Linked DNA regions of Homo sapiens. The protein of the gene in region 3 interacts with the protein of the main gene of each other region in a pairwise test. Each region holds a gene or a part of one and is shown on either strand. Other genes may lie near its edges.

Region 1 (4,204 bases), on a different chromosome or scaffold from region 3:
CGCCCTGCTTCCTTTGGTGGGAATAAGTAGCTATGCCAAAGTCAGTATCTGCCTGCCCATGGACACCGAGACCCCTCTTGCTCTGGCATATATTGTTTTTGTTCTGACGCTCAACATAGTTGCCTTCGTCATCGTCTGCTGCTGTTATGTGAAGATCTACATCACAGTCCGAAATCCGCAGTACAACCCAGGGGACAAAGATACCAAAATTGCCAAGAGGATGGCTGTGTTGATCTTCACCGACTTCATATGCATGGCCCCAATCTCATTCTATGCTCTGTCAGCAATTCTGAACAAGCCTCTCATCACTGTTAGCAACTCCAAAATCTTGCTGGTACTCTTCTATCCACTTAACTCCTGTGCCAATCCATTCCTCTATGCTATTTTCACCAAGGCCTTCCAGAGGGATGTGTTCATCCTACTCAGCAAGTTTGGCATCTGTAAACGCCAGGCTCAGGCATACCGGGGGCAGAGGGTTCCTCCAAAGAACAGCACTGATATTCAGGTTCAAAAGGTTACCCACGAGATGAGGCAGGGTCTCCACAACATGGAAGATGTCTATGAACTGATTGAAAACTCCCATCTAACCCCAAAGAAGCAAGGCCAAATCTCAGAAGAGTATATGCAAACGGTTTTGTAAGTTAACACTACACTACTCACAATGGTAGGGGAACTTACAAAATAATAGTTTCTTGAATATGCATTCCAATCCCATGACACCCCCAACACATAGCTGCCCTCACTCTTGTGCAGGCGATGTTTCAATGTTTCATGGGGCAAGAGTTTATCTCTGGAGAGTGATTAGTATTAACCTAATCATTGCCCCCAAGAAGGAAGTTAGGCTACCAGCATATTTGAATGCCAGGTGAAATCAAAATAATCTACACTATCTAGAAGACTTTCTTGATGCCAAGTCCAGAGATGTCATTGTGTAGGATGTTCAGTAAATATTAACTGAGCTATGTCAATATAGAGCTTCTCAGTTTTGTATAACATTTCATACTAAAGATTCAGCAAATGGAAAATGCTATTAATTTGGTTGGTGACCACAAGATAAAATCAGTCCCACGTTGGCTCAGTTCAACTAGATGTTCCCTGATACAAAGAGAACTTGATTTCCTTAAAACTGAAAAGCCAAACACAGCTAGCTGTCATACAAGAAACAGCTATTATGAGACATGAAGGAGGGTAAGAATTAGCTTTAAGTTTTGTTTTGCTTTGTTTTGTTTTTTAACTCAACCTATTAATCATCTCTTCACAAGAATCCACCTGATGTGACCAAGCTATTATGTGTTGCCTGGAAAAACTGGCAAGATTTCAGCTTATGTGGCCTAGCAAACTAAGAATTGCTCTTCTTGGCCAGCCTCATAGCATAAAAGATGTGAACTCTAGGAAGTCTTTCTGAGTAGCAATAAGTGGGAATTATGGGCAGAGCACACTCAATCCCCTGTTGATTAATAAAACAGGCTGGACACTAATTAACTATGGGACTTAAATCTGTAGAAATGAAGGAGTCCAATAGCTTCTTCCAATTTTAAAACTCTAGTACATCCCTTTCCCTCAAATATATATTTCTAAGATAAAGAGAAAGAAGAGCACTAAGTAAGTAGAATCTGTTTTTCCTATTTTGTAGGGCTGCTGACTCCTAGTCCTTGAAGCCTAGACACATGACCCAGGAAATTTTTCCTTTGTTTCACTTTTGATTATGATGTCTGAGCCAAAAATTCAATTAAGTAAACATACTCGCCTGGATCTGAATCATTCATTTAATTACTAGATCTACCCAGCTGTTATATCAGGCCAAAAACAGATTCGTGTTTATATAAAAGAGTAAACGATGGTTGCAAATTTTGGCTATTTAGAGTTGCTACTTCACTATGAAGAGTCACTTCAAAACACTTCGCTTGTCTTTAGGGATGATTTTTGCCATTTCCAGTCCACGGTATGATACTAAAGCTGTCAAGAGAGGTTTCTTCTTTTCTGAAACTGCCAGCTCTTTCCAGCCCTGTTGATCACTGGACATAAAGCTTCTTTTCCCCAATAATTCTTCTTTACTTAAAATAGTCAGGATCTTTATCTACAGATGTACTCTCCAGGTTACCTGTGATGATAGCCCCCTAATGTCCTGCTAGAAAAGTCTCCAAGCAGAGATGACATTACTTCTGAATGCTCATAAACCACACCATGAAATAAAAGCTCTTTGTTGTTTTAAGATTGTGAAGTGTCGTTAATGGGTCCCCACAGATGGTCCCTGCTGGACTCACCTGGAATCTCTCCACAGCCATACCCACTCATCACTATCATTGAGACCTGCACATCTTAATAGAAATATTATAAACATCGAAAATCATGACTTACCTAGAAGTTCGCTTGTAACTAATGAAATTAAACAAATGTGTTGCCTTTTGTCATGTGTTTCTCTCCTGTGACATTTCAAAATATCACATCTTGATAAATAATGTGTTTCATCTTGAATAGCTGAACTAATTGCTTTGGAAACAGAGTCCTAGAAAAGTGACTTCAACAGAATTGTTACTAAAATTTGCACTCACAACATGAAATAAATTTTCTTCCTATGGAATAATCGTGCCAAGTCCTAGAGTGTTGTTCTTTTTTGTTAATCTGTGAGTTTCTTTCGGGGTTACTATTGTATGTGTTAAAACTGAAGACAAGAAAACTAATTGGCACATTTGCTAATGAATCCATATTAATAAATAAGTTGTTGACTGTCAATTAATAACTTAAATATAACATTGTGTCTTGATCAAAAGTGGTCTTTATGTGGAAAAACTTACTCCTGGTGAACTGAATTATGATTAATTGACAGGGATCACTAAGAGAAAAAACAATAAAACCAAATATATCAAGCAAATGATTGGTATTGACACTAGAAATTTAAATAGTGTGCTAATGAAGACAATAAACCTCTAAGGCCTCAGAGGCCTTATTATTATTCAGAGCTCATGTTATCTAGCACCTTTCAATTATCTGAAGATAAACCCAAATCATTGAGGATAAATGGCCACAGACTAGTCGCAGTGGAGGTCACACAATTCATTCTCTAAAGCTCATGCATGTTTCTCAAAAGGCTGTCTCTTAAAACACCCCCAAAGTTTATTGACTCTTGCTTTAAGGATAATCTACTGCATCAAAGAAGCAGCCAATGAGGAGAGGGTCTTACAGGGCAGCACCATGAGAGTGGCAATAAAGTAAAAGTCAGGGCAAAAAGAAGAAAACTATAACCACAATACTTTTTTAAAACAATAGAAGTTTGAGAACAAATGCTCCTACTTTAGGAGAAAACTGTTTCATAACATAATTGAGTGATTCTCATTCATTCTGAGTACCTAAAGGGTGCCAGAGAAACTTGTTGGCATCACTGCATTCTGTTTTAAAAGCTATAAAAGTTCCAGCTCCAAGTGGTAGACTGACTTTCTTTCAAATCCCACTGACATGACAGGGAAGAAATTTAAAATGAGACCAAGCCAAAACTGCATGGTGAACAGGAGAAATAGAACCACCAGCAAAGCAAACGTGTTGATAGCTTTCTGAAAGATGGAAGGTGTATGGCCTTGAGTTGATGGTAACTAACTGTACAGGAGGTTACAGCCTAGAACACTGACAGGATAAGGCTGCAGCTACAGAAGAATATACTTCCCTGCAGAGTCCCAGTGAGCCTGCCAAGCCTGAAGGTTACAGGACTGAGGGTTAATTAGGGCAATTAATTGAAAGTCTGTGTCACTTGGACCCTCCAATCTGCCATCACTCCATTCATAGAATAACTGACATATGCAGTGTTTGCTGCAATTAATATCTCAAAGAAAGTGAATGATTCCTGTAAACAGGGAACTCCTCCCACTGGCCCACTTCCTGCCCTCACACATAAGTGAAGCCTGATCATTGAGGCGTTACCATCAGCACCCCCCACCACCCCCACCTGAAGTCAGGGAGAAACATCTTGGGGAAAATGATCTATACAATCTGCTGACATTAGCTATTCTCATTCTTCACTCAAAAATATAAAGAAGACACAATAATTGCCAGACATTTGAGAGAAATAAACTGCACATCAATAGCACACAGACACAGAGACACACACACACACACAAGGCCAGAATGTACAAAAGAACATTTCTCCAGAGAAAATAGATCATTCATAAACAGAATATTGTTGTTTAATTTCACTTAATAACTTCAGAGAAAT
Region 2 (4,611 bases), on a different chromosome or scaffold from region 3:
AACTAAATTAAACAACATGCCAAAAATACAAACACTTAACATACAAGCATTCCTCTTACCTTTCTTCCAACTCCTTTGTCTTCCAGCTCTTTCCCCTCTGGTCCTACTATTCCAGTGTTGTCTAACCCAACATACCTGGGAGATATGACCCACCTTCCTCAGTAACAGTTTTCTCTGAAGCAGCAATTCACAAATGGGAATGGTAGTGTGTCATTTCTTTACTTGCCCTATCTTGTCTATATCTCCTCTTCTATGACCTATTCCCCAAAAAATAATTTTCCCAAAATTGGTTACCCTAAGCAACTGCCCATGTTCTCATAGGGACTGGGAAAAGGCCCTAATAAGACCTAAGGATTTTTATAAATAAAGATCATTATAAGTGCTAATATCTATGAAATGCTTATCATATGTGAGGCACTATGTGAAGTTATTTCATCAATCATTTTACTGAATTATCACAATTCTGTCAAGTAGGTGGCTCCACTAAAGATGGTCCTAGGATTCTAGTTCGCTCTAACATACAGCAGAACCTGATGTTCTGTTCATTTCCTCTTTCTTCTCTTTCCAGCTCATAGTAAAGTCTCATCTTCATCAATTGGATTTTTGTATTTAATTGATAGTTCCATCCTGCTCCAAAACATAGCATTTAGAAATTCAAATTCAGTTCAAATGACACTGTTTTGCTCTCTCATCTCTTAATATTTACCAAACATATTCTCCCCATTTGTTATCTCTTATTTAAAAATTCCCATATGGCTTCTTATTGATAATGTCAACATTCTGCTTCAAACCTTCTCTAGAGCCAATTAAGGTATAATTTGTAATTAAATACATAACTTCTATTGTACCTTCACTAGGTGATCTGTCAAGAATGCTATTGCTGAGGTGCTCTGGGCCCTGTGAACCAGAACCTTAAACTGTCTAGAACTGCTCTGTCCAACATGGTAGTTGCTAGCCACATGTAACTATTTATAATTAAATTTTAATTAAACTTTTTAAAATTAAAAATTTAGCCCCCCAGTCACACTAGTCATATTTCAAGTGCTCAATAACTCTATATGGCTAATGACAACTGTGTTGGACAGGGCAGATATCAGAAAATTTTTATCATTTAAGAAAGTTGTGTTGAAAAATGCTGCTTTAGACAGTACTAAACACACCCTCACAGCAACCAAGAACTAGGAACTGGGAAGAAGTAAGGACCTACTCTTCTTTGAATCTTCTGCCAAGAAAGAAAGAAAAAGCCACTTATGCCTAATACATCACCAGTAGCCCAAAGATACCTAGGACAATTAGGCTATGAAGGAGTGTGCATGTCTTACTTAAGGAGCTGGTAGCCTCTGGAGTTTGCTTCATATGAATTCTATGTTACTATAAAGTAAAATATTCCATGAATGAGGTTTGCTGGTTTCATGAATTTTGACTTAGATACAATCTGAAAGTTCCAATTCAAAATCCAAGTTTATAGATTACATGTATATGTAATAACATGTGTGTGTGTTTATCTTGTCTTAGTAATCATAGTATGATAGACATGGAAAGAATATAAGACTTGGAGTCAGTAGTACAGGTGTCACATACTACTTGGTGACATTATGAGGCCCTCTAGAGCTCCATTTCTCCATCTCTAAGATGTTGATGAGAATTGCCATAACTATCTCAAAGGACTATTGTAAAACTCAAAGTGTAGGTATACGAAAGTACTTTGTAAGGAGCATGATTGAATCTGCAATGGTTTATTATTTTATATAGATATGGTACAATGTACAAATAGGGTAGTTCAGGCTGAATGCATTTCTGAATGATTTTAATCTGATATGACTGTATTTTTGCCTTTGTGGTCATTTATTTCACTGAAAAGTGGAACGGTGAAGAAAAAATTTAGTTATTGAAATTTCTGATTGGTTAGATTCTATTAATTGAAATACCGTGCATTGTTTGTTGTTTAGTTTATTTGGTCCTGAACATTTTCTTCTCAGGATTAAAAAAAATAATAACTAGGAAATCTAAGTTGTTTGGAACAGCTTTTACCTTTTAACTAATAGTTTTTAAGTAATCATCAATAATGAACCCATCATGGTAATAGGGGTTCAGAAATAACAAAATACAAGCATTATGGATATTCCTCAGTGTGAGGGGGTGAGAGGGATAATTTTCAAAACATATTTTTACTAATTACAAATTGAAATGAGCTTCTATCCATTCTCATAGATCAATCAGAACAAGAATAATTCTATTTCATGCATTGATTAAACCAAAACAAAAGTGAAGGTCATTAACTTGACTGAATTATTGAGTTTGCATTAGGGATTCTAACCTTAAATAACAAGTCTTTATTCATTCTCTAAGTTGAAATCTGTTGGGGTCATTAGGAGAACCTTATGCATCTGGCTAACATTTACTCCCAAACCTGGCATCTATGACCTACTCCCGCACTTTGATCTGTGTATGCTATTTATGCGTCAAGTAAAACTGCTTTTCAGATGCAGCCATACCTTCTATAGTGGCTCACGATTTTGATACTTAAATATTTTTCTCTTATAACACAAAGATTAACACAGTGCTCAGATATTGTAGAAAATAAGCCTGGAAACAAAGCTATTCCATCAGATGTTTCTTCACTGTATTTATTAGGTTTTATCATCTTGAAAACTCAACGAAGTCACTTTATTTATTCATTCATTCATTAACAAAGCACCTGAGAATCAAGCTGAGTATGACCAAGGGCATGAGGTTTTATCTCCAGTTCCAGAGATCTAGTTTACCTTTGTTTAGAGTTAACAAAGGTATAGATGCTACCTTGTAAGATGCTCTGCCAGGTAAATAGTTGAGATATACACTTAGCCACTGTTTCTGGTCAAGCCTGCTGTCCTCAAGCCTTTGTTGCATATGGGACTATATTACTGAAGGAAAAATAAGCGAAGCTGTTAACTCTGGCCTCTAGTAGATGATGCTAGCTTTAACAATAAACATATGTTGTTGGGCGTCATGATTTATTCACTTCATTGGACTTGTTTACCTCTTGGAAAGACCTGGATTTTGGAAAGGGGAAAATGCCATTACCTTGGAGCTGAAAAGAGTTCTTCTCTGTCTGTAGCTTAAAGGATTTCTCTAATTGTAGATCCCAAGAGATAAAGAGAACTGACAATGTAGCTTTGAAACAAATCCTAATAGCATACAATCATCCATTTAATCAATAACATAGTTGAAGAATGTCCTATTTTGACACAAAAATGTTGTGGTTAAGGATGTTTGGAACACATGGATGATCAATAAATATTTGGTGAATTCAGACCATTGTTCCAGGTTAATTCATGCCATACACTCGTCTATCTCTACCAAGAATTCAGTATTCCCTATGGCATTTTCCTTTAGCAAATAAAACAGGAGGCAAACACAGTATATCAAATCTTACCCTAATAACCACACTTCTAGCCCTTCTCGGGGCATAAATAGTGATGGCCAAGATAGACTACTCCTGAGAACCGTGTCTTGCTGCTTCACCCAGAAAACAAAGCACAAATCAGCCCAAGGGCCTTGCATTTCACTGTGATGAGGCAACTTCAGAAACTCAAAGCTTAAATGGAGTTGTGTGTTCTTTTCCACTCTTATCTTGAAGAGATACCTGTCATTTCCTTCAGAAAGTATTTGGCTGGCCTTCATGATAGCAGCAGGCAATTGCTATTGTTCCTAAATTCAGAAGAAGCTTAGCTTAGAATGAAAGCACATATATTAATTAGAGGAGAACTAGCGACATTGCAGTCTGATGGTTTACAGAATATTATCCTTTTCCAGGAATAATAAGGCTTCCCTTTAACGGTTTTAACTGGTGATTACTGACAAAAATGAAAGAAAAACAGCTCATTCTATTCTAGCAAGTCAATAAGGAAACGCCTAGAATTAACTGATTCTTATTTGCCAAAGGCAAAATATTCCAACCCAATGAACAACAAATGATCAAGCTGGTTCTCATTTTCTCTTCATTTTAAAAAAATTTTTCCATGTTTTTGAAAAATAATCAGTAAATAAGAAACAATTGCACCCAGGTGTTTAAACATTCTGTTGACAAAATGGTCTTCAGAAATGGAAAGGCTTAATTGTTTGTTAGAGATTATACAACATATTATTATGTCAATATTTTATAACAATCACATAACTGAACTCTCTCACTTTAGAGAGAAATTGATGCTGGGAACACTCACCTGAGTTGATGTCAGAGGAATATGACTTGAGTCTTCTCTCTCTCAGGCAATTATAGAACCCACTCTGCATTTTTTAACATCATGCATCATTTCATTAGTCATGAAAACTTGTTTAGTCTATGAGTTTATCAAAGATTCAGGTTTATCTTTTCTCAAAGATTCAGGGAGTAGGAAAGAGTATGTGTTTGGATTTCAGATTATTTCCCTTTGTACCTCCAGGTGAAAGAACTACTGGTCAAGGATGGTCAGCAGGTAGAAATTTCAGGGGTGGAACTATAAGCCATAGAAAAAGATTCAAAACCTCAGCATCATCCATGTTGCAAGAACTTAGGCAAGGATTTAACTCTTCTTACTTTTTAATCTTCATCCCTAAAAGAAGTTATTTAGATTAAATAGTGTACAATATCCT
Region 3 (4,468 bases):
CTGGGGTGTTGAGAGGGTCCCGGTGTTCTTGGGGCCCATTTTGTACAAGCGATAACTATTGAAGAAAAGAGAAGAATACAGTTCTTAACCCTTTCCTTATGCCTCACAAATTCAGCTTGATTTAAAAGCCTACTAGGACCATAATTTTAAAACAAAAAGCTTATTAGGAATATGGTGTCTGGAATTTGCTCCACAATTGCAGGAGTAGTTGCAGTTGGGGGGAGGGGGAGCAGGATTTCAGAGGTTGGTGGTTCTTGGTTATGGGTGGTGGACACATGGCATTTCATGATATTATGCTGTCTGCTCTGTGATGGTTCAAAATTCTCCGTAATAATAAAGTTTAAAAAGAAAGGCCTATTAGATTTTTACTTAGCAAGATCTCAGGGTTTTGAAATCGCAGCAGGCAGGCGTGGAGAAAGCAGGCGGAGAGGGATTCCTGTTCTGTGAGTGTTTGTTTTTCTCCTTTTATCTGTCATTTTCAAAACGCTGCTGTGTTTCCTCTGATAATTTATCCTATTTACTTATTAGCTTTTAATTTTTAAAAAGGTAACACATACAGCATAGAGAAGGATAAGAAAACTCTAGCCCAGGACTGCCATAGAAACGCAACAGCAGCCACGTATGTAACTTTAAATTTTCCAGTAGGCACATGTTAAAAAGTAAAAAGAAACATAAGAAATTAATTTTAGTAAGATGTTTATTTAACCCATTATGTAAAATATTATAATTTCAATGTAAAACTAATATTAAAAACTATTGAGATATTTTACATTCCTTTTTCTTAGATTAAGTCTTTGAAACATCGTGTGGATTTTGGCCAGGCGCGGTGGCTCATGCCGGTAATCCCAGCACTTTGGGAGGCCAAGGCGGGCAGATCACTTGAGGTCAGGAGTTCGAGACCAGCCTGACCAACATGTTGAAACCCTGTCTCTACTAAAAATACAAAAAGAAAATTAGCTGGGCGTGGTGGTGCATGCCTGTAGTCCCAGCTACTGGGGAGGCTGAGGCAGGAGAATCATTTGAACCTGGGAGGTGGAGGTTGTGATGAGCCAAGATCACGCCACTGCACTCCAGCCTGGGTGACAGAGTGAGACTGCATCTCAAAAAAAAAAAGAAAAGAAACATTGTGTGGGTTTGACACTTACATCTCCTGACATCTCCATTTGCATTAGCCACGTTTTTCTATGCACAGCAGCCTCGCATGTCTAGGGGCTGCCATATTGGTCAGCACAGCTCTGGAGAGTACAAAAGGGACACAAAAAAGATCACTCTCTGTTCTGACCTCCAGCTGACCCCTACCTGCCAGCCCTCTGGTCCACTTCCCAGAGGCAACCTCTGTAACCAGTGTCTTAAAAAATATCTTGTGATCCTCCAAGCTTTTGTAACTTAAGCAAATGAAATACCATTTATCTCCCTGTTTCTTACCTAAATGGAAACATTTCACAGGCGTTCCTTTATACTTTCCCTTTTCACTTAATGTGTTCTATTCAATGGCTGTTCTGATGATGCCTTGCTATGTTTTGTGGGAGAACCTCGCCAGGTACACCTTCTACCCTCAGCGTCAGGCCCAGATACCCATATTCAGAAATACATCTGACTCTGGGGACAGTGATTCCTTAAGGGACGTGGGCCTCTTCTTAGGTGTCACCTCCTTAAAGCTACAGCCAGTATCCCTGGCCTGAGGGACTGGTATGTGTGAGGGCTTACGGCAGAGCCCGGGACACCCTTGCCCTTTTGAGATCCTGCAAAGTGCCGGTCTGGCCAGCAGATGTCCTGGAGGCCGCACCTCATAGGTGGAAGGTTCTGGTGCATTTGGCTGCTGCCCCAACACAGACCTCACAGTGCCTGCCCACGATCCCTGGGTTGATTTTGTGGCTGGTGGTTTCCCTGAGCAGCGTCCATCTGCTTCAGAGAGCTGAGGAGGTGGCTGGGTGAGCAAGCCTCTTCTGCCCTTCTCCCTGGTGACGCTCATGTTCAAGGACTCCCAGACAAACCCCCCCTCACTCTCTGGAGCTGATGGGACCTGGGGAGGAGCCTTTCCTTGTCAGCTCCTTGGCTGGTCTCCACATGCTTTGATTCCAGCTCAGAGGAACTCACTTGAGAATGCTGGTTTTTATCAGCACCCCAGCCAGCAGAGTGAGGTCTTTGGATCTTGAGCTGCAGTCTCTGAGTTGGGCCTCCTTCCTCTTTTGTTTCAGTCACTTCTTCACGAACGATCCTGGATGCAAATGAAGAATTTAAGTCCATGTCGGGCACCATCCAGCTGGGCCGGAAGCTTATCACAAAATACAATCGCCGGGAGCTGACGGACAAGCTTCTCATCTTCCTTGCGCTAGCCCTGTTTCTTGCTACGGTCCTCTATATTGTGAAAAAGCGGCTCTTTCCATTTTTGTGAGATCCCAAAGGTGCCAGTTCTGGCCCTTTCAGCTCCTGTTTCAGGATCTGTCCTGGTTCCTGAGCTCTAGGCTGCTAAGCTGAGCCACACACCCCTCCGTTTGCACCAGTTGCCTGCAGGTTGGATGGAACACAGTGCCCCACTTTTCTGCAAGTAGCTGGCTTGTAAAGGGTGAACAGAGCCATGGGAGGAAGGTCTGGCATTGGGATGCCGCCCTGGGGACATACGAACCGCCTCCTTCCACCATTGTGCACTATGGGAGGCCGCTGCTGCGTGGAGCACTTAAAGTCCAGCCTCCAGGACCGGATGCCCCTCCTGTCTCCCGCTCCCATCGTGCCCTTAAATGCCAGATCTGGTGGAGGGAAGAGAGAAGAGGTAGGAAGAAAGGTGATGAAAACTCCTGGTCATTCCTTGAATAAACTTGATTTTATTTAATAGAATAAAATGTATTTGATTTTGTAAGATAGCCCTCTGGGAATGTGTGTTCCTCTTTTCTTTTTTCTTTTTTTTTGAGATGGAGACTTGCTCTATCATCCAGGCAGGAGTGCAATGGCGCAATCTTGGCTCACTGCAGCCTCTGCCTCCTGGGTTCAAAAGATTCTCTTGCCTCAGCCTCCCAAGTAGCTAGGATTACAGGCACACACCACCATACCCAGCTAATTTTTGTATTTTTTTAGTAGAGATGGGGTTTCTCCATGTTGGCCAGGCTGCTGTCGAACACCTGACCTCAGGTGATCCACCCATCTTGGCCTCCCAAAGTGCTGGGATTACAGGTGTGAGCCACCATGCCCAGCCCTCTTTTCTTGATGTCCAGATTTTTAGGACATGAACCTAGATTATTTATTTATTCATTCATTCAACAACGAATTAGCATTGTTATTTTCTTTCTGTCCCCACCCAACAACAAGGAACTATTAAACAGCTGCCACACACAGGGTGTTATAGACGCTGCTGAACATGACAAATACATTGGTGAACCAGACATGGTTCCTCCCTCAAGGAGGAACAGAAGGAGACACGGAAATAAAATCTCACAGACTATCAGGAAGGAGGGTCCAACAGCCCCTGTTCAACCAGGTGTGGTGGCTGATACCTCTAATCCCAGCATTTTGGGAGGCTGAGGCAGGATGATCACTTGAGCCCAGGAGTTCAAGACCAGCTAGACAACATAGCAAGACCCTGTCTGTATTTAAAAAAAAAAAACAAAAAAACAGAAACAGAACAGAAAACAGCCCTTGTTGGAAGTGGCTCACACCAACATCTGAAAAGGCTGCAATGCCATTCTCTACCACAGCAGCCTGGCCAGGCCTGGGGGTGTGCAGTGATTCGGGCTGGCACATGCCTTTCTCTCTGATGTCCAGAGCTAAGTATAACCAAGGAGGGAGAAGCTAGTGAGAAGCTGAGACTGTGTGAGCCTGAGTTCTGTCCAGGCCAGAGGGAGAGGGCCCAGGCTAGGCCAGTCCTAGAGGTGCTGTGTCTTTTGTGCTGCAGGCCTGGCTGACCTCAAGCTTGAAATCCCAGCCTCCCCCACTATTTATAGCCCCAGAGGACCTGGGAAGGGCAGTGTGGAGGCTGAAGGGAAAGTGGGAAGAACATGGACTTTGATCCTTGGCTCAAACACTTGGTTTTGAGATTTGGCTCCACTGCTAATGGACCACAGGACCATTGGCAAGTTACTTTATGTTGCTAAGCCTCAGTTTTCCTATCTGTAAAATGGAGGTGATAATCCATATGGGTCCTCATAGAGTCAACTTGAGAATCCAATGAGAATATAAAGCAGCAAGTGTAGCTAGCTGTCTTCAGACCAGGCCTGCCATGGCCTTTCCAAATGCTGCCACCCCCTGGGCCCTGGGCACTGAGGTTTCCTGCAGCTGACAGCAGCGGTGCTTCAGGAAAAGCTGGGCCAGGCACCAGCATTCTGTTAGAGGTGTTTGAGCAGAGGATGTCAAGAGTTAAGGCCTCAGTTATAAAGTGGCAGATCATCATGGGACCAAGTTATAAAAAACTAGCTGCACATCTCAGACCAGCTTAATGAGTGGATTCCAAGTTAAAGTGTGGATCTAAGTATAGATC
Region 4 (4,611 bases), on a different chromosome or scaffold from region 3:
TAGAAATTAGATTTGCAACCTTCAACTGTTGTTTAGCTTTTAGAAATATAAAAATTAATATTAATATATTTTTATAATGTGTTAAAAGATGAATTTTTGTTAATCCCATCCATATTTCATTATCATGCTTGTTTCAGAAATGTTTTACTTGTGGCAACATTCCATTATAAAATTGATTTATGGTTGTGTATTTGAATATGCTGGACAATCAATTCATTTTAAGTAAAATAATGTGTTGCATTTTATATATATAGTTACACATATGTAAGTTATGCGATTTACAGCTCTAGAGAAAAACATTCAAGTTAGTTATTCATGGGAATAAAATAGGTGCATGTTCTCAATGAAAAAGTTAGAAAAATGTCTTGAATATGGTGACTGTTTACATTATAGAATTGTAATTAACCCTAACTTAATCTCTCAGTGCCCCTGTACTCTTGTCTTCAGTGTCTCGAGATATTTCAGCAAATGGCTACCATCGCCCCGTACGTACCTCTCCAGTTACATTCTTGCCTGCTTTAGGAGTGGACACACAGAGCAGCCTCCAAGCTGCCCTGATAAATTTCACGTGTATAATATGGAAGACAAATGTTTCCTTAACATATTTATTTTCTGTGTATGAAGTTTTTCATTAACTTTTCATCCCAAGATAACCACCTCTGTTTTTAGTGCGCTTTATTTCTTGTTTTTGTTCTGTAGGGTCTCTGTAAAACATAATGTGTGACATAAGTAATGAAGCATAATTTTCAAAAGCCACTTGCAGGAGTCAGTATTGTTTCTTTGGTTTTTATACCATGTATTTTTTGTTGGGACTCAAAGGACAGTGATCCGTATTTAGTCAAATTAGGAAATTAAGTTGAAACATCTTGATTCCTAAAAAGTGTATTTTATAAAACATTTACTGATTAATGAATTTTATGGTATTTTGTTCTCTCTATAGATAAGCGTGTGGAAAATTGGCCTCTGATGCAGTCTCCTTGGCCTACACTAAGTATAAGCACTCTTTATCTCCTGTTTGTGTGGCTGGGTCCAAAATGGATGAAGGACCGAGAACCTTTTCAGATGCGTCTAGTGCTCATTATCTATAATTTTGGGATGGTTTTGCTTAACCTCTTTATCTTCAGAGAGGTATGTTTTTAAGATCACTTTAATAATTTTCCAAGGTTATTGGAAATTTAAAAATGAGAATGTGTAAAACCATCATTGTAATATTTTACCCAGACATAACTGTTAGCTACTCTAAAAGTACATTTTTGACATTTTTCACTTTTGAATAACAAAAATATTAAACATGAGGTATAGGAAAGTTGTTTAAAGTGGAATTTTGAATAAGACCAACTGGATTCTAAAGTAACCCTTATTAGCTGTTCTGGCATTGAAAGTTATTTAACTTTTCTTAGCCTCGTTTTCCCCACTTAAATACCTACCATCTCAGGTTATTATCGGAGTAAAGTAAGATAATTTTTGCATAGTGTTTGGCACGTATTAAGCACTCAGTAAACAGTAGCAGCTATTTATTTATAATTCTTATTCAGTAGTTTCTGGTTTGGTAACTGATCAAAATATGCCAATTTCAAGTAAATCCTATTACATAATGTTGTATTTTGGGCTGGAATTAAAATGAATTAACTGCCATATAGCTGTTGTTACTAATCATTATATACTTTTCTGGGCACTAGCAAATTCTCCACAACATTTTCAAAGGAAATCCTAAAGGCTAGATTGACACAGCCATTTTTTAAATTGCATATGTATAAAGAATTTGTTTCCTAAGAGACTCATTAAAATTCTGTATGAAGCCAGAGAACTGACTAGTAATGCTAGGAAAATAAACAATAACTCTTCTTAGAAAAAGAAATATTTCTTTACTTGAAAACTTAGCCTCGAGTCTCAACTTCATGAACACTTTAATTTATTTGGATACCTGTACCTAATTTGTTAGATGCAAACCACTCTGGATCAAACATAGAAACCAGTTAAGGTAGGACAACTTTGAAATCTGAGTCCTAGCAATAAAAATTTCTCTTAATACTGTGAAGTATTTAATAGATAGAGTCAATGTTCAGTATAAAATTTACATGTGATTTTTAATTTAGATTTTAATTATAGAACAAATTAATGCACAGTAACTTCTAGCAATCGGAATGCATGAAATTTTTAATGCATTTGAAATTTTTAAAGAAAATATTGTGTTTAAAATAATTTGAAAGGCTACATTTTGTATATAATTGTGTTTTTAATGCTGTGTTTACTAAAACTTTACTACAAATATTATTACTCTTTTTCCAGTTATTCATGGGATCATATAATGCGGGATATAGCTATATTTGCCAGAGTGTGGATTATTCTAATAATGTTCATGAAGTCAGGGTAAGTACATTAAAAATACTCTTAATCAGTAAAAGTGGTTTGATTTTTATAGGCCCCAGTCTGTGAAAATATAGAATGTACTTTTTTTTAAGAGACAGTTTCTTTAACATTCATTTAGAGACAGTTTCTTGCTCTGTCCCCCAGACTGAAGTGCAGTGGTATGATCATAGCTCACTGCAGCCTCAAACTCCTGGGCTCAATTGATCCTTCTGCCTCAGCCTCCCAAGTAGCTGGGACTACGGGTGTACCCCACCATGCCTAGATATTTTTTTACTTTTTGTAGAGACAGGGTCTTGCTATGTTGCCCAGTCTGGTCTTGAACTCCCAGCCGCAAGGGATCCTCTTGCCTCAGCCTCCCAAAGTGCTGAGATTACAGGTGTGAGCCACCACACCTGGCAAAATGTACTTTAATATGATAGTGAAATTATACTAGATTGTTATGAGTCAGTAAAACTATGCTTTTTTAAAAAGTACTTAATTTAAAATTTGTTTTTGTATCTCAAAAATGTTTTTTATTTTGCAGCATGAGTGAATATGCATTGAATTACTAGAATGCAGTACTTGTTAAAGCAAAGAAGTCTCATGTTTATTTTAAAGACATTATTTTAGATTTTTGTTTGTTTGTTTTTGCTCAAGAGTAGAAACTCTTAGAGTCCAAGTTATGTGTTAAGAAAGTGAGGAAAAGTAAATGTTTTGTGAAGTGTGGAATATTTAGGAAATTAGGCATAGAACAATTTGTATTGGCATAAACTCAGTTTTTTTATATTTGCAGAAAAATAAAACACTAGTAACAAGATGTTATATTTTATTTTCCATTCACTTACATGAGTAAAATTAACATTAAGCAAAAGAAACAACAGATTACCTTATTCTATTACGTATTTATTGAACTCTTCTTATATACTGTGGTTCATACTAGAAATTACATATAAAACATAACATGTTTTATGTTACCTATAGTATATGTAGTAATAATATCTAGTGGCTTCCCTTGAGAAAAATAGTTTCCTGGCATGGGGAGTGGACAATATATAAATATCAGTATTCATCAAGACTGGAGACAAAATTGGTTTAATGTACTTAACAATTTTATGTACGTATCTTCATTTCCCTATTAGAAGACTTATGGACTGATGAAAAATCACCTGTCTTGGTTGTCATGTTGGTTTTATTTATTCATTAAATATGTATTGAGCATCTACTATATGTTGGTACTGGGGACAGGGGTGAAAAGCCCTGCCTTTGTGGGGCTGGCATTTTAGTGAGGGTGAGAAGGCAGACAGCAGCCATGTAAACAAATGACTAAGGAGGAAATAAAACCTAGAAGGTGACTGAGAGAAAATGAGAGACTACTCAGATGTATTGGCTATGAAAAATTTTCTTCTGATAACTATTGCCAAAGAATCTCTTCAGTTGGAGGGCTGACTTCTTGCTTGCCGTAGGGAAGGGAACAGGGATAAGTGTTTGACTGACTGACTTCTGGGAGTATGCATAGAAAAACCCTTGGGTGGGGCAACATATTACTATTTTTAGGATAAAGGTTTAAAAATACCACTCTCACTTACAGATGTAAATTTTCAAGTCTTTAAAAAATGAGCTATTATGAGAACTGTAATCTAGGAGGATAAAGAACCTGAGATTTGCAACAGATTTCATTTGAAATCTTCCTCGTGCTCTCTTCTCCTCTCTAATATGGGATGCAATAGAGTGAATATTTTACGCAGAGACTCATTTCTGTATTCATTGTTACGTAGCCAAGAAGTATCACTTTTTGGTGTAGTTTATTTAAAGATATCTAGTGCAGTTTGCAAACTAAGCAGACTTATTTGTTGTTATTTTATGTGAATTGTGGCAAATGTAGAGGTCCAGATAGAGGAGAAATAAGAGATTGTATCTTTCCTTCTAGTTAAAGGTTACGATGCCAAAATGGTGACAGTTACTTTATTTTAAAGAACTAATATAATAGTGAATATTAACTATAGTGTTGCTGGGAGTAGTTAACTATTTCAAGCTTATTTTCAACCAATTCATATCATTTTTAATGATATTTTTCAAGTAAATTCAGTAAATAATTCTCAGTTTGTAAATACTTTGTTTCTTATATGCTTTCTGTTTCTTCTTTCCCCATACTTTAAAATTATAATTTTGTTTTTCAAATGCAAAAGCCAAAACAAACAAAAATCTCATGACATATACCAGGTGCAGGTATAAAATGCAAAGGGATCCTTCAACTCTAAAACA
Region 5 (3,701 bases), on a different chromosome or scaffold from region 3:
GCATCAGCCTGGTCACGGCCATCGCCGTGGACCGCTATGTGGCCGTGCGGCACCCGCTGCGTGCCCGCGGGCTGCGGTCCCCCAGGCAGGCTGCGGCCGTGTGCGCGGTCCTCTGGGTGCTGGTCATCGGCTCCCTGGTGGCTCGCTGGCTCCTGGGGATTCAGGAGGGCGGCTTCTGCTTCAGGAGCACCCGGCACAATTTCAACTCCATGGCGTTCCCGCTGCTGGGATTCTACCTGCCCCTGGCCGTGGTGGTCTTCTGCTCCCTGAAGGTGGTGACTGCCCTGGCCCAGAGGCCACCCACCGACGTGGGGCAGGCAGAGGCCACCCGCAAGGCTGCCCGCATGGTCTGGGCCAACCTCCTGGTGTTCGTGGTCTGCTTCCTGCCCCTGCACGTGGGGCTGACAGTGCGCCTCGCAGTGGGCTGGAACGCCTGTGCCCTCCTGGAGACGATCCGTCGCGCCCTGTACATAACCAGCAAGCTCTCAGATGCCAACTGCTGCCTGGACGCCATCTGCTACTACTACATGGCCAAGGAGTTCCAGGAGGCGTCTGCACTGGCCGTGGCTCCCAGTGCTAAGGCCCACAAAAGCCAGGACTCTCTGTGCGTGACCCTCGCCTAAGAGGCGTGCTGTGGGCGCTGTGGGCCAGGTCTCGGGGGCTCCGGGAGGTGCTGCCTGCCAGGGGAAGCTGGAACCAGTAGCAAGGAGCCCGAGATCAGCCCTGAACTCACTGTGTATTCTCTTGGAGCCTTGGGTGGGCAGGGACGGCCCAGGTACCTGCTCTCTTGGGAAGAGAGAGGGACAGGGACAAGGGCAAGAGGACTGAGGCCAGAGCAAGGCCAATGTCAGAGACCCCCGGGATGGGGCCTCACACTTGCCACCCCCAGAACCAGCTCACCTGGCCAGAGTGGGTTCCTGCTGGCCAGGGTGCAGCCTTGATGACACCTGCCGCTGCCCCTCGGGGCTGGAATAAAACTCCCCACCCAGAGTCAGTCCTAGTGGGGCCCTCTGTGTTTCGCACTCGTGTGGTGGGAGGCAGGGAGGGAGCGCGTGGCTCAGAGGGCTGGCGGACATCTTCCAGGGACCCTTCGGGGCTCTTCACTTTGAGGTCCCCCTTGGACCCTTTCACCCCTTCCCACCCCCACCCACCTGGAGCGTGAGCAGGGGCTGTTGGAAGCTCCTGGCAGGACCACAGTAGAGGCCCCCAGCCCAGGTTTCCTTGCTCAAGACAGGGCTGGGAGCAGCTGATCTCCATGTAGGGGCTGCACAGCGGTGCAAGGGGGGGTGACCAAGGTCAAGCAGGTGAGGGTGGGTTGGGGTGGGTGGCAGTGAAGGGGGTGGCCAGGGTCTGTCAAGGAACCCAGCCCTCTTCTCCTTCCTTCAGGGAAAGGCTGGAAACCATGTCTGGCAGGGGCAGGGGTTGGGTGCCCACTCAGGTAAAGGCACGATGTCCTGCTGGTTTCTGCCTCTCCTGTACTCCTGCATGGAGGGCATCTCGAAACCCAAGCTGGAAGGACAGGGCACTCCAGAGACCTCCTGTGAGTGTGGGCCAGCACGGCCTGGGCTCAAACCCCATCCTGTCATCCCATATTGCATGTCCACAGGCACCGCCCCACCCTGTTCCATGTTCCACAGGACTGGAGAGAGATGGCAGTCATGTTCTGGCAGGGACATGGCACAAGCATGCGGCTGATGGCATCTCACAGGACCCAGGCTCCGGAGGGCCCATGCCCAGGAGAGCCCCATAAGGGCTCTGTGCCTAAAAGGGTGCATGCCCAGGTGGGCCCATGCCCAGGAAGGTCCATGCCCAGGATGGTCCATGAGCAGGAGGGCCTCATTCCCAGGAGGGTCCCGTGCCCAGGAGGGCTCTATGCCCAAAAGGGTCCCATGTCCGGGAGGGTCCATACGCAAGGGTGTCCATGCCTGGTTGGGGGGGGTCTATGTCCAGGAGGGTCCCATGCCTGGAAGGGTCCATGCTCAGGAGGGTTCATGCCCAGGAGAGTTTATGCCCTGGAGGGCCCCATGCCCGGGAGAGTCACGTGCACAGAGGGCCCTGTGCTCAGGAGGATACATGTCCAGGAGTGTCCCTGTCCAGGAGGCTCCATGCCCAGGAGGCTCCATGTCAAGAAAGATTCATGCCTAGGAGGGTTCATGCCCAGGAGTGTCCCTGCCTAGGAAGATCCATTACCAGAAGGGCCCATGTCAAGGAGCGTTCATGCCCAGGAAGGTCCAGCCCAGGAGGGTCCATGTCAAGGAGGTTCCATGCCCAGGAGGGTCCATGCTGAGGTGGGTCCATGCCCAGGAGGGTTCATGTCCAGAAAGGTCCATGCCTAGGAGGGCCCATACACAACAGAGCCCTGTGCCCAGGAAGGACCATGTCAAGGAGAACCCCATGCCCATGAGGGTCCATGCCCAGTAAGGGCCATGCCCATGAGATCCTCATGCCCAGGAAGGCCCATGCCCAGGAGGGTCCATGCCCAGGCCAGTTCATGCACAGGAGGGCCCCATGCCTAAAAGTGTCCATGCCCAGGAAGGTCCATGTCCAGAAGAGTCCATACCCAGGAGGGCTGATATGGTTAGGCTTTGTGTCTCCACCCAAATCTCATCTTGAATTGTAATCCCTATAATAACCATAGTCCCCATGTGTCAAGGGAGAGACCAGGTGGAGGCAATTGGATCATGGGGGCTGTTTCCCACATGCTGTTCTCATGATAGTGAGTGAGTTCTCATGAGATCTGATGGTTTTATAAGGGGCTCTTCCCTTCACTTCTCCTTCCTACTGTCTTATGAAGAAGGTTCCTTGCTTCCCCTTCACCTTCTGCCATGATTGTAAGTTTCCTGAGGCCTCCCTAGCCATGCTGAAGTGTGAGTCAATTAAACCTCTTTCCTTTAAAATTACCCAGTCTTGGGCAGTTCTTTATAACAGTATGAAAACAGACGAATGCAGTAAATTGGTACCACAGAGAGTGGGGTGCTGCTGTAAAGATACCCAAAAATGTCGAAGCAACTTTGGAACCGGGTAATAGTCAGAGGTTGGAACAGTTTGGAGGGCTCAGAAGAAGACAGAAAGATGTGGGAAAGTATGGAACTTCCTAGAGACTTGTTGAATGGCTTTGATCAAAATGCTGATAGGGATATGGACAATGAATTCCAGGTTGAGGTGGTCTCAGATGGAGATGAGGAATTTGCTGGAAACTGGAATAAAGGTGATTCTTGCTATGCTTTAGCAAAGAGATTGGCAGCATTTTGCCCCTGCCTTAGAGATCTGTGGAACTTTGAATGTGAGAGAGATGATTTAGGGTATCTGGCAGAAGAAATTTCTAAGCAGCAAAGCATTCAAGAGTGCTCTTAAAAGCATTCAATTTTATGCATTCACAAAGAGATGATTTGGAATTGGAACTCACATTTAAAAGGGAAGCAGAGCATAAAAGTTTAGAAAATTTGCATCCTGACTATGGGATAGAAAAGAAAAACTCATTTTCTGAGGAGAAATTCAAGCCAGCTGCAGAAATTTGCATAAGTAACTAGGAGCCACATGTTAATAGCATAGACAATGAGGGAAATGTCTCCAGGGCATGTCAGAGGTCTTCACAGCAACCCCACCCATCACAGGCCTGGAGGCTTAGGAGGAAAAAATGGTTTTGTCGTTGGGGCCCAGGGCCTTGCTGGTTTGTGCAGTCTCAGGACTTGGTGCCCCAC
Region 6 (4,611 bases), on a different chromosome or scaffold from region 3:
TAGGCCGGGCACAGTGGCTCACACCTGTAATCCCAGCACTTTGGGAGGCTGAGGCAGGTGGATCATGAGGTCAGGAGTTCAAGACCAGCCTGACCAACATGGTGAAACCCAGTCTCTACTAAAAGTACAAAAATTAGCTAGGCGTGGTGACGTGCACCTGTAATCCCAGCTGCTCAGGAGGCTGAGGCAGGAGAATCGCCTGAACCCGGGAGGCGGAGGTTGCAGTGAGCTGAGATTGCGCCACTGTGCTCTAGCCTGAGCGACAGAGCGAGACTCTGTCTCAAAAAAAAAAAAGACTATACTCAAAAGGGGACCATTACAGGTAATGTAACTTTTTTTCAAAATAATTGTTATATCTTCTGGACTAGAATATAATCAATAACTATCTCTTCAACTAAGAAAGATCATAGAATCTTGATGCTTAAGCCCTACTTTTTATAAGATTGGAGTACCATAATTCCAAGGGGTAGCAATGCAAAAATACCTTATATGAGATTTTTATGGTTCCATAAGCAACTAAGATGCTTGGGCGGATAGACCCTAGCGTCCTAATGCATTTTGTTATACACTGTGTTTCAAATGAAACCTAGCTCTATTAACAGAGTTATCATTATTTAGAGATAGTGCTACAGTGTGTTGGGGGACTGAGGGAAAAGTGGCAAATAGCCTATGAGGGGCTTTTACTTTGTTATGCATTTACATGATTTCATTATTTTTCTTATTGAATTCTCACAGTAACTCAATGAGACAGCAATTCTTATATGCTCACTTTAAAGATGAAAACATGAAACAGAATGGTTGAGTTTCATACCCAAGGTCACATGGCTATTAAAAGATGGAGCTGGGACTCTCCCAGATCTGTCTGACGTCAGAGCCCAAGACAAGCCACCCCAAACAGAAAGGAGGCCATGGGCAAAAGTCTACCAGTACTCCTGTAGGGCATCAATCTGCCATGCTGAAGGCTCTTCAGTCAGAATTGAATTTCATCAGATTATATTTACGTTAGTAAAGTGTCAAGCTAAGTTTTTTGACCCTGATCAACACCATTTATACCTATATACTATTTTATATTACCAAAGGATTTTCCCAGACACTCTTGACCCTTTCTTCATCATTGCCTATTACCTCCCCAGGATATGAATGTCTGTTTTGTATTTTTTTGTATTAATTTTGTTTTTAAATTTTTGTGGGTACATAGTAGTGTATATATTCAAGGTTACATGAGACATTTTGATACAGGCATGCAGTGCATAATTATCACATCAGGGTAAATCAGGTATCCATCCCCTCAAGCATTTACCCTTTGTGTTACAAACAATCCAATTATACTTTTAGTTATTTTAAAATGTACAATTAAATTACTATTATTAATCATTTTTACTAACAAAAAATTCTTTATGGCTGCTCCTTGCAGAGCAGGGCTAACTCACAGGCAGTGCAACCAGAGTAGCCTATTTGTTCTAATTTTTGGTACCCATTAACCATCCCTACTTCTTCCCTACACCACCTCTACCCTTCCCAGCCTCTGGTAACCATCCTTCTACTCTCTATCTCCAAGAGTTCGATTATTTTAATTTTTAGCTCTCTCAAATAAGAGAGAATATGTTTTGCGTGTATATATATATGATTTTATATATATATATAAATATAAAATATATATATAAATATATATATATAAATATATATATAAATATATATAAATATATATATATAAATATATATATATAAATATATATAAATATATATATATAAATATATATAAATATATATATATATATATTTATATATATATATTTTTTTTTTTTTTTGAGATGGTGTCTTGCTCTGTTGTCCAGGCTGGGGTGCAGTGGCATGATCTCAGCTCACTACAACCTCCGCCTCCCAGGTTCAAGTGATTCTCTCACCTCAACCTCCCAAGTAGCTGGGATTACAGGCACCTGCCATCATGCCCAGCTAATTTTTGCATTTTTATAGAGACAGGGTTTCATCATATTGGCCAGGCTGGTCTTGAACTCCTGACTTCAGGTGACCATGTTGCCCAGGCTGATCTCGAACTCCTGAGCTCAGGGGATCCACCCACCTCGGCCTCCCAAAGTGCTGGGATTCTAGGCATAAGCCACGCTCCAGCAGATATATTTCTATAAAGCATTATTTGCCTCTTCTAGATACAATTGAGATGTGCTGTATATAATGGGGTTTCACTCTGAACGCATTCTTGCTTGTACCTAACTAACTACCTTAATGTCAACAAGGTCATCAGAATTACTTGGGCAGATTCCTGGATATATATATAATATTTATATTGTTATATTTATATTATATAATATATATTATATATACATATATAATATGTACATATATACATATACAGCATTATATACATATACATCTACATATACATCTCATATATACATACACAGCATTATATACAGCACAACTCATATATACATATATGTATTATATTACACATATTATATGTATATGTATGTATATTATATATTAATAGTATAATATAGTATTAGTATACTATACTATTATATTAGTATATAATAATAGTATATACTATTATTAGTATACTATAGTATAATATAGTATAACAGTATAATATAGTAATAGTATATTATAGTATAATATACTATAGTATTATAGTATTAATAGTATATGTATTATACTATTATATATGTATATGTATATGTATTATACTATTAATTATTATTATACAGCACATCTCATATATACATATTATATTATATATTTATATATACTATATAAGTATATAATATTTATCAGCCTGTATATATATATTACAGGTATCTGCCTGTAATCCCAGCTACTCGAGAGGCTGAGGCAGGAAGATTGCTTGAACCCAGGAGGCGGAGGTTGCAGTGAGCCAAGATCACGCCACTACACTCCAGCCTGGGTAACAGAGCAAGACTCTGTCTCAAAAAAAAAAAACGTTCTGATACTAAAATGATACTAAAATGGCCACCTCAAAACAGCTACTTCAAAATATCTGATTCTCAGCTTGCTTTCATTATTAAGAAATATACAAATCCCAGCACTTTGGGAGGCCAAGGCAGGCGGATCGCGAGGTCAGGAGATCGAGACCATCCTGGCTAACATGGTGAAAGCCCGTCTCTACTAAAAATACAAAAATTAGCCATGCGTGGTGGCGGGCATCTGTAATCCCAGCTACTCGAGAGGCTGAGGCAGGAGAACTGCTTGAACCCAGGAGGCGGAGGTTGCAGTAAGCCAAGATCACACCACTACACTGCAGCCTGGGCAACAGAGCAAGACTGTCTCAAAAAAAAAAAAAAAAAAGAAAAAAGAAAAGAAAAGAGAAAAAGAAAAAAAGTTCTGATACTAAAATGGCCACCTCAAAATAGCTACTTCAAAATATCTGATAATGGGCTAGGCGCGGTGGCTCACGCCTGTAATCCCAGCACTTTTGGAGGCCGAGGGAGCAGATCACGAGGTCAGGAGATACAGACCATCCTGGCTAACACGGTGAAATCCCGTCTCTACTAAAAATACAAAAAAATTAGCCAAGCGTGGTGACGGGCGCCTGTAATCCCAGCTACTCCGGAGGCTGAGGCAGGAGAATGGGGTGAACCCGGGAGGCGGAGCTTGCAGTGAGCCGAGATCGCACCACTGCACTCCAGCCTGGGCGACAAAGCTAGAGCTAGACTCTATCTCAAAAAAAAAAAAAAAAAAAAAAAAAAAAGAACTCAGGCCAGGTGTGGTGGCTCACGCGTGTAATCCCAGCACTTTGGGAGGCCAAGGAGGGTGGATCACTTGAGGTCAGGAGTTCCAGACCAGACCACCCTGGCCAACATAGTGAAACCCCATCTCTACAAAAACACAAAAATTAGCCCGGCATGATGGTGCGTGCCTGTAATCACAGCTACTAGGGAGGCTGAGGCAGGAGAATCGCTTGTGAACCCGGGAGGTGGAGCTTGCAGTGAGCTGAGATCACGCCACTGCACTCCAGCCTGGGCGACAGAGTGAGACTCCATTTCAAAAAAAAAAAAAAAAAAAAAGAACTCAAACCAAAAATTCCATAAACAAAGAGGTTCTCAAGTCTTGCTGAATCACACTTTTTATACTGCACTGAATTAGAATATCCAGGGGTAAGGTCCAGGAATGTGTATTTTAAGGAATCTGCCCAGGTAATTCTGATGACCTTGCTGCCATTAAGGTATTTAGTTAACAGGTACAAGCGAGAATGCGTTCAGAGTGAAACCCCATTATATACAGCACATCTCAATTGTATCTAGAAGAGGCAAATAATGCTTTATAGAAATAGATCTGCTGGGAGCGTGGCTCATGCCTATAATCCCAGGACTTTGGGAGGCTGAGGTGGGTGGATCCCCTGAGCTCAGGAGTTCGAGATCAGCCTGGGCAACATGGTGAGACCCCGTTTTCTACCAAAAATACAAAAAATTAGCTGGCGTGGTGGCACACACCTGTGGTCCCAGCTACTTGGGAGGCTGAGGTGGGAGGATTGCTTGATTCTGGGAGGTGGAGGTTGCAATGAATCGAGATCATGCCACTGCACTCCAACCTGGGTAACAGAGTGAGACCCCCCATCTCAAAAAAAAAAAAAAAAGA
Region 7 (4,611 bases), on a different chromosome or scaffold from region 3:
TTCAAAATGTGTACTTAATTCCTTGTTCCTGGTGATTTGCAATCCCATATACACATCTGGGGTTCTCAAAAACACAATGTGACATGGGAACTGACACAAAAAAAACTGGGCTGAACTTTTTGGCTTGTCCTCATGTAGATCATAAATGAACTTTTTGAGAGTCTTTGAATGTCCCAGCCTAGCCAGACTGGGGGCAGGTATGAAGCAAATGGCAAATTAAATTGTTTAAGAGGCTTTTGATCAAAAAGGGTAAATGCTATTTTCCCATTTTTCTTCATGAAGATACAAACACTTAAGTAAAATAGAAGGATTACAGAAAACTATCATCTACATTTACTGATCATTTTATCTGTATTCTACAAGGCCAGCCTAATAATCTTTACTTTCCACCGGTAAGGAAACTAAGGTTCAAAGAGGTAAAGATCATGCAACTAAGAAGTATCAGAAGTGAAATTCAAACATAGTTACTCCTCGTTCTCAGGGAATCTCAGTGTAATAAGGGATATAAATGCACAAGAAATTAAAATATTAGATTAAAAAATAATAAAAGATTAAAATCCTACATTGGAAGGTCAATTAAAAATAAATAAAAAATAAAAGATTAGACAAGATATAAGTGCCATAAGATAATTTTCAAAAAATGCTATCGAGATTCAAAGGAAAGAAAAAGACATATCTAGCTAGAAAACTTGCTGAGAAGTATTTTATTTTATATCTATTCTACTATGCAGGATACTGTGCTAGACATTGAGAATATAAAAGTGAATAAGCAACATCCCTGCCCTCAGGGAGTTTTTACTCTAGTATGTTATGGGAGACTTGGACAGTATTTGAAAAGGCACCAAATGCTGTCAGATAAATAAGTATTTGTGGTCAGTCTGTCCTTGTTTGGAATTCATTTCACCCTGGAAACCTAGACCTGTGTCTGTCACAGAGCCTTGAAACTATCTTTTGCTATAAATAGGCATGGCTGGCATTAAGAGGACTTCCTCTGTAAAAATATCAGATTTCATTCTCACAACTCCAGCCATGCTTTTCAGTTTGGATACTGTCTTGAGAAAGTGCTCAACCACGAAAACATTCTTAATGAGGATTTTTTTTATTGAGGGGTGAATTTGGAACACGGGCTTTGGAGTAAGATGACCCATATTTGAGTCCCAGGTCTTCCATTGTGTGACTTTGGGAAAGTTAAATGTTGCTTTAGGTAACTCATTTGTAAAAGGGATTTAAAAATACCCTCACAGGGCTGTTGTAAGAGTTAAATGAGATACATGTCTAAAGTAACTTTAAAAAATGCCTGGGGTATACACAACCCCTCAAAACAGCCACTGTTGCTATGATCAGTCATGGTAATACTAGATAAAGCTTTCTTCACAAACAGTACTATGGCCCTGCTTTGAATATTCTCTCAATGAATATGTCTGTACCCCCTAAATTATAACTTAGAAACCTCCAGGATTACTTTAGATCATTTTATTTAAGTATACATGAAGACATTTACCTCACACTATAACACAGGATCAGAAAACTACCAAGTCACATACAACCCAAGTACTCACTATATTTCTGATTTTTCATCCTATGTTTTAGAGCACTTGACCTGGGTGCCAACATGTGTCTCTCTTCTCCCATGTTCCCAGCCTGAACACTCTGCTTATTTCTTGGCCTCCTATTTATTCCAAGCCCCATCTTACTGCCATTTTGCCCTTTCTTCTGAGCAGTAACATGTGCCTGGCATACCTTTTCTCCCCTCTGTCATTAAAATAGCTCCTGAAAATACAGCAGAAGCCTTCCAAGTGGTTGATAAGAAAACCTACTATATCCCTTGGCCTTCTCAGTCCCTATGTCCTCTACAGAAAGCAAAAGCAAACTAAAAATGAGGATGACACTTGATACAGAAAATAGGAACACAACACTGAGGTGATGGGAGTTCCCAGGATGATAGTGAAAGCAATTGCAGAATGATAGCCGTGCACACCAGATGAAGGAAGTCCACACAAGGCTCTGAGAGAGAATTCTTCCAGAAGATAAAATTGATAGTATACCTGACCTCTTTGAGAGGAAATTTAGGCAATTGATTTAAGGTTGGATCAATAAGTACGTTGAAAACCGAACAAAGGGAAAAAATAAGACAGTAATTCCAGAAAAAACAAAAATAGTACAGGAAGAGAAAACCAGTGATACCTCACTACTTGGCTTAGCTTTAAATTGCACTTACAAATTCATAATATAAAATCTCATATTGATCTAAATGAAGTTATGATGTAATTATATTGGAAAGCTGGGTATAAGTATGTGGTGGGGGTAACGGGGAGGAAAGAGAACTAAATCTTTTTCTGTAGTAGAAAGTTAATAGTCCTCAAAACTGAAAAAGCAAGAAGTAACAAAACAAGCATTTCCTTCCTTCCTTCCTTCCTTTTCTTTCTTTCTTTCTTTCCTCACTTTGTTGTCCAGGCTGGGGTACATCACAGCTCACTGCAGCCACGAACCCCCAGGCTCAAGCAATCCCCCTATTTCAGTCTCCTCAGTAGCTGGGACTACAGGTGTGTGCCACCACACACAGCTAATTTTTTTTAAGAAGTTTCAAGTAGAGATGGGAGTCTCACTAGGTTGCCCATGCTGGTCTCAAACTCCTGAGCTCAAGCAATCCTCCCATCTCGGCCTCCCAAAGTGCTGGGATTACAGGCGTGAGCCACCATGCCTGGCAGAAGCATATTATTATTATTATTTTTTTTTTTTTTAAAGTAGAGACAGAGTCTCCCTATGTTGCCCAAGCTAGTCTCAAACCCCTGGGCTCAAGGGATCCTCCCTCCTCAGCCTCCCAAAGTGCTGGGATTACAGGTGTGACCCCTGCACCCAGCTGCAAAGCGTATTATTTAGAAATATGGAGGTAGATATCAAAATGGTCAAAATAGCAAATGTTTTTGAGGAGGAGGAAATTGGAAGAGGTGAGCATGGGAATGCCCTTTTTTTGTACTAATCATATAGAATGGTTTGACTTTTTAAACTTTATGCAAGTGTAACTTCAAAAACACAAATGCATAACCACGAAGGCCAAAAAAGAAGGTGAAAGAGAATAGCTACAGGGAAGAAAAATAGGTTACACATTTTATTTATTTATTTATTTTTAAAAATATGATTTAAGGCCGGGCGCAGTGGCTTATGCCTGTAATCCCAGCACTTTGGAAGGCCATGGTGGGCAGATCACTTGACGTCAGGAGTTCGAGGCCAGCCTGGCCAACATGGTGAAACCCCATCTGTACTAAATACAAAAAGTAGCCGGGTGTGGTGGCAGGTGGCTGTAATCCCAGCTACTCAGGAGATTGAGACGGGAGAATCGCATGATCCCAGGAGGTGGAGGTTGCAGTGAGGTGAGACTGTGCTGCTGCACTCCAGCCTGGGCAACAGAGCAAGACTCTGTCTCAAAAAATAAATAAATAAATATATATATATATATCATTTAAAAATATGGTGTGTACACTAGGAAAATTTTCAAAGAATATACCAAAATACCTCTGAATTTAAAGTAATTTTTCCCTCCTTTGTTATACTTCTGTGAATTTTTTGCATTATTACCTTTGTAATCAGACGGAAAAGCTGTTGCATATTACAGGAACAGGAAACAATTAGAAATGTGAGAGGAAAGCCGTGTACAAAGATGTTCACTACAACACTGTTTATAGCACTAAGAAATCAAACAACCTGTGTAATCAGGAAGTGGGCAATAAATGATGCTGCATAAACCTAGTGAAATATTTTACAGGTGTAATTTTTAAAAAGAGGCTCTAAACAACTTTATACTCATATCATATGGTTTTCACCTTTATTCGTACTGTACTCCTAGCTAAAATGCTCTAATGCCTTTTCCCTCTTTCCTTTTTCTTTTCTTTTCTTTTCTTTTGACAGATTCTTCCTCTGTTGCCCAGGCTGGAGTGCAGTGGTACAATCTTGGCTCACTGCAACCTCCACCTCCTGGGTTCATGCAATTCTCCTGCCTCAGCCTTCCCAGTAGCTGGGATTACAGGCACTCACCACAACGCCTAGCTAATTTTTGTATTTTTAGTAGAGACGGGGTTTTATCATGTTGATCAGGCTGGTCTTGAACTCTTGACCTCAAGTGATCCACCTGTCTCGGCCTCCCAAAGTGCTGGGATTACAGGCGTGAGCCACGACGCCCAGCCTCCACTTTCTTTTCGTCGATATTTTCTTACTATTACATCCTTCAGGAAACCCTCTGACAGCCACCTGAATCACCTCCCCGCCCCATTCCTTTCTCACCTCCATCCTAACTGCGTGAGTTAACTCATTCTGTGTCTTCAAAATATTCTGAACAGATACTCTATATCTGTACTTACCACCTAATATTATAATTATGTGTTTGTCTGACTTTCCCACTAAACTTTAACCCTGAAAGCTGGGATTGGGTCTTACTCATTGTTATCATTTCAGTACAAAGCAGAGGGCCTAATAAATAGTAGATGCTTAATAAATGTTTGCTGAATAAAGTAATGAGTAATGTGGAAATATACTTGTGTTATGACATCACATAGATAAGGGAAAGTAGTACTTACACTTCAGGGCTGTATGAGGATTAGATGGGGAAATTCATGT

What was found.
Region 1: the proteins of BNIP1 (region 3) and TSHR interact in a two-hybrid assay, tested with the Homo sapiens proteins (one large-scale study listed by BioGRID and IntAct).
Region 2: the proteins of BNIP1 (region 3) and SLC7A14 interact in binary tests that used the Homo sapiens proteins (3 or more experiments, as listed by UniProt).
Region 4: the proteins of BNIP1 (region 3) and ELOVL4 interact in binary tests that used the Homo sapiens proteins (3 or more experiments, as listed by UniProt).
Region 5: the proteins of BNIP1 (region 3) and GPR35 interact in a two-hybrid assay, tested with the Homo sapiens proteins (one large-scale study listed by BioGRID and IntAct).
Region 6: the proteins of BNIP1 (region 3) and HSD17B11 interact in binary tests that used the Homo sapiens proteins (3 or more experiments, as listed by UniProt).
Region 7: the proteins of BNIP1 (region 3) and STOM interact in binary tests that used the Homo sapiens proteins (3 or more experiments, as listed by UniProt).

Annotation. Positions count from the first base shown.
Region 1 is NC_000014.9:81,143,714-81,147,917, forward strand, and holds the end of TSHR (thyrotropin receptor isoform 1 precursor), read left to right. Parts: coding exon 1-640; 3' UTR 641-2,593; downstream 2,594-4,204. UniProt on the Homo sapiens protein: Receptor for the thyroid-stimulating hormone (TSH) or thyrotropin. Also acts as a receptor for the heterodimeric glycoprotein hormone (GPHA2:GPHB5) or thyrostimulin. The activity of this receptor is mediated by G proteins which activate adenylate cyclase.
Region 2 is NC_000003.12:170,578,820-170,583,430, reverse strand, and holds part of SLC7A14 (solute carrier family 7 member 14), read left to right. Parts: intron 1-4,611. UniProt on the Homo sapiens protein: Imports 4-aminobutanoate (GABA) into lysosomes. May act as a GABA sensor that regulates mTORC2-dependent INS signaling and gluconeogenesis. The transport mechanism and substrate selectivity remain to be elucidated.
Region 3 is NC_000005.10:173,161,527-173,165,994, forward strand, and holds the end of BNIP1 (vesicle transport protein SEC20), read left to right. Parts: intron 1-546; coding exon of another isoform or gene 547-619; intron 620-785; coding exon of another isoform or gene 786-798; exon of another isoform or gene 799-834; intron 835-2,198; coding exon 2,199-2,395; 3' UTR 2,396-2,861; downstream 2,862-4,468. UniProt on the Homo sapiens protein: As part of a SNARE complex may be involved in endoplasmic reticulum membranes fusion and be required for the maintenance of endoplasmic reticulum organization. Also plays a role in apoptosis.
Region 4 is NC_000006.12:79,922,711-79,927,321, reverse strand, and holds part of ELOVL4 (very long chain fatty acid elongase 4), read left to right. Parts: intron 1-940; coding exon 941-1,128; intron 1,129-2,289; coding exon 2,290-2,370; intron 2,371-4,611. UniProt on the Homo sapiens protein: Catalyzes the first and rate-limiting reaction of the four reactions that constitute the long-chain fatty acids elongation cycle.
Region 5 is NC_000002.12:240,630,260-240,633,960, forward strand, and holds the end of GPR35 (G-protein coupled receptor 35), read left to right. Parts: coding exon 1-623; 3' UTR 624-2,900; downstream 2,901-3,701. UniProt on the Homo sapiens protein: G-protein coupled receptor that binds to several ligands including the tryptophan metabolite kynurenic acid (KYNA), lysophosphatidic acid (LPA) or 5-hydroxyindoleacetic acid (5-HIAA) with high affinity, leading to rapid and transient activation of numerous intracellular signaling pathways.
Region 6 is NC_000004.12:87,377,168-87,381,778, forward strand, and holds part of HSD17B11 (estradiol 17-beta-dehydrogenase 11 precursor), read right to left. Parts: intron 1-4,611. UniProt on the Homo sapiens protein: Can convert androstan-3-alpha,17-beta-diol (3-alpha-diol) to androsterone in vitro, suggesting that it may participate in androgen metabolism during steroidogenesis.
Region 7 is NC_000009.12:121,356,271-121,360,881, reverse strand, and holds part of STOM (stomatin), read left to right. Parts: intron 1-4,611. UniProt on the Homo sapiens protein: Regulates ion channel activity and transmembrane ion transport. Regulates ASIC2 and ASIC3 channel activity.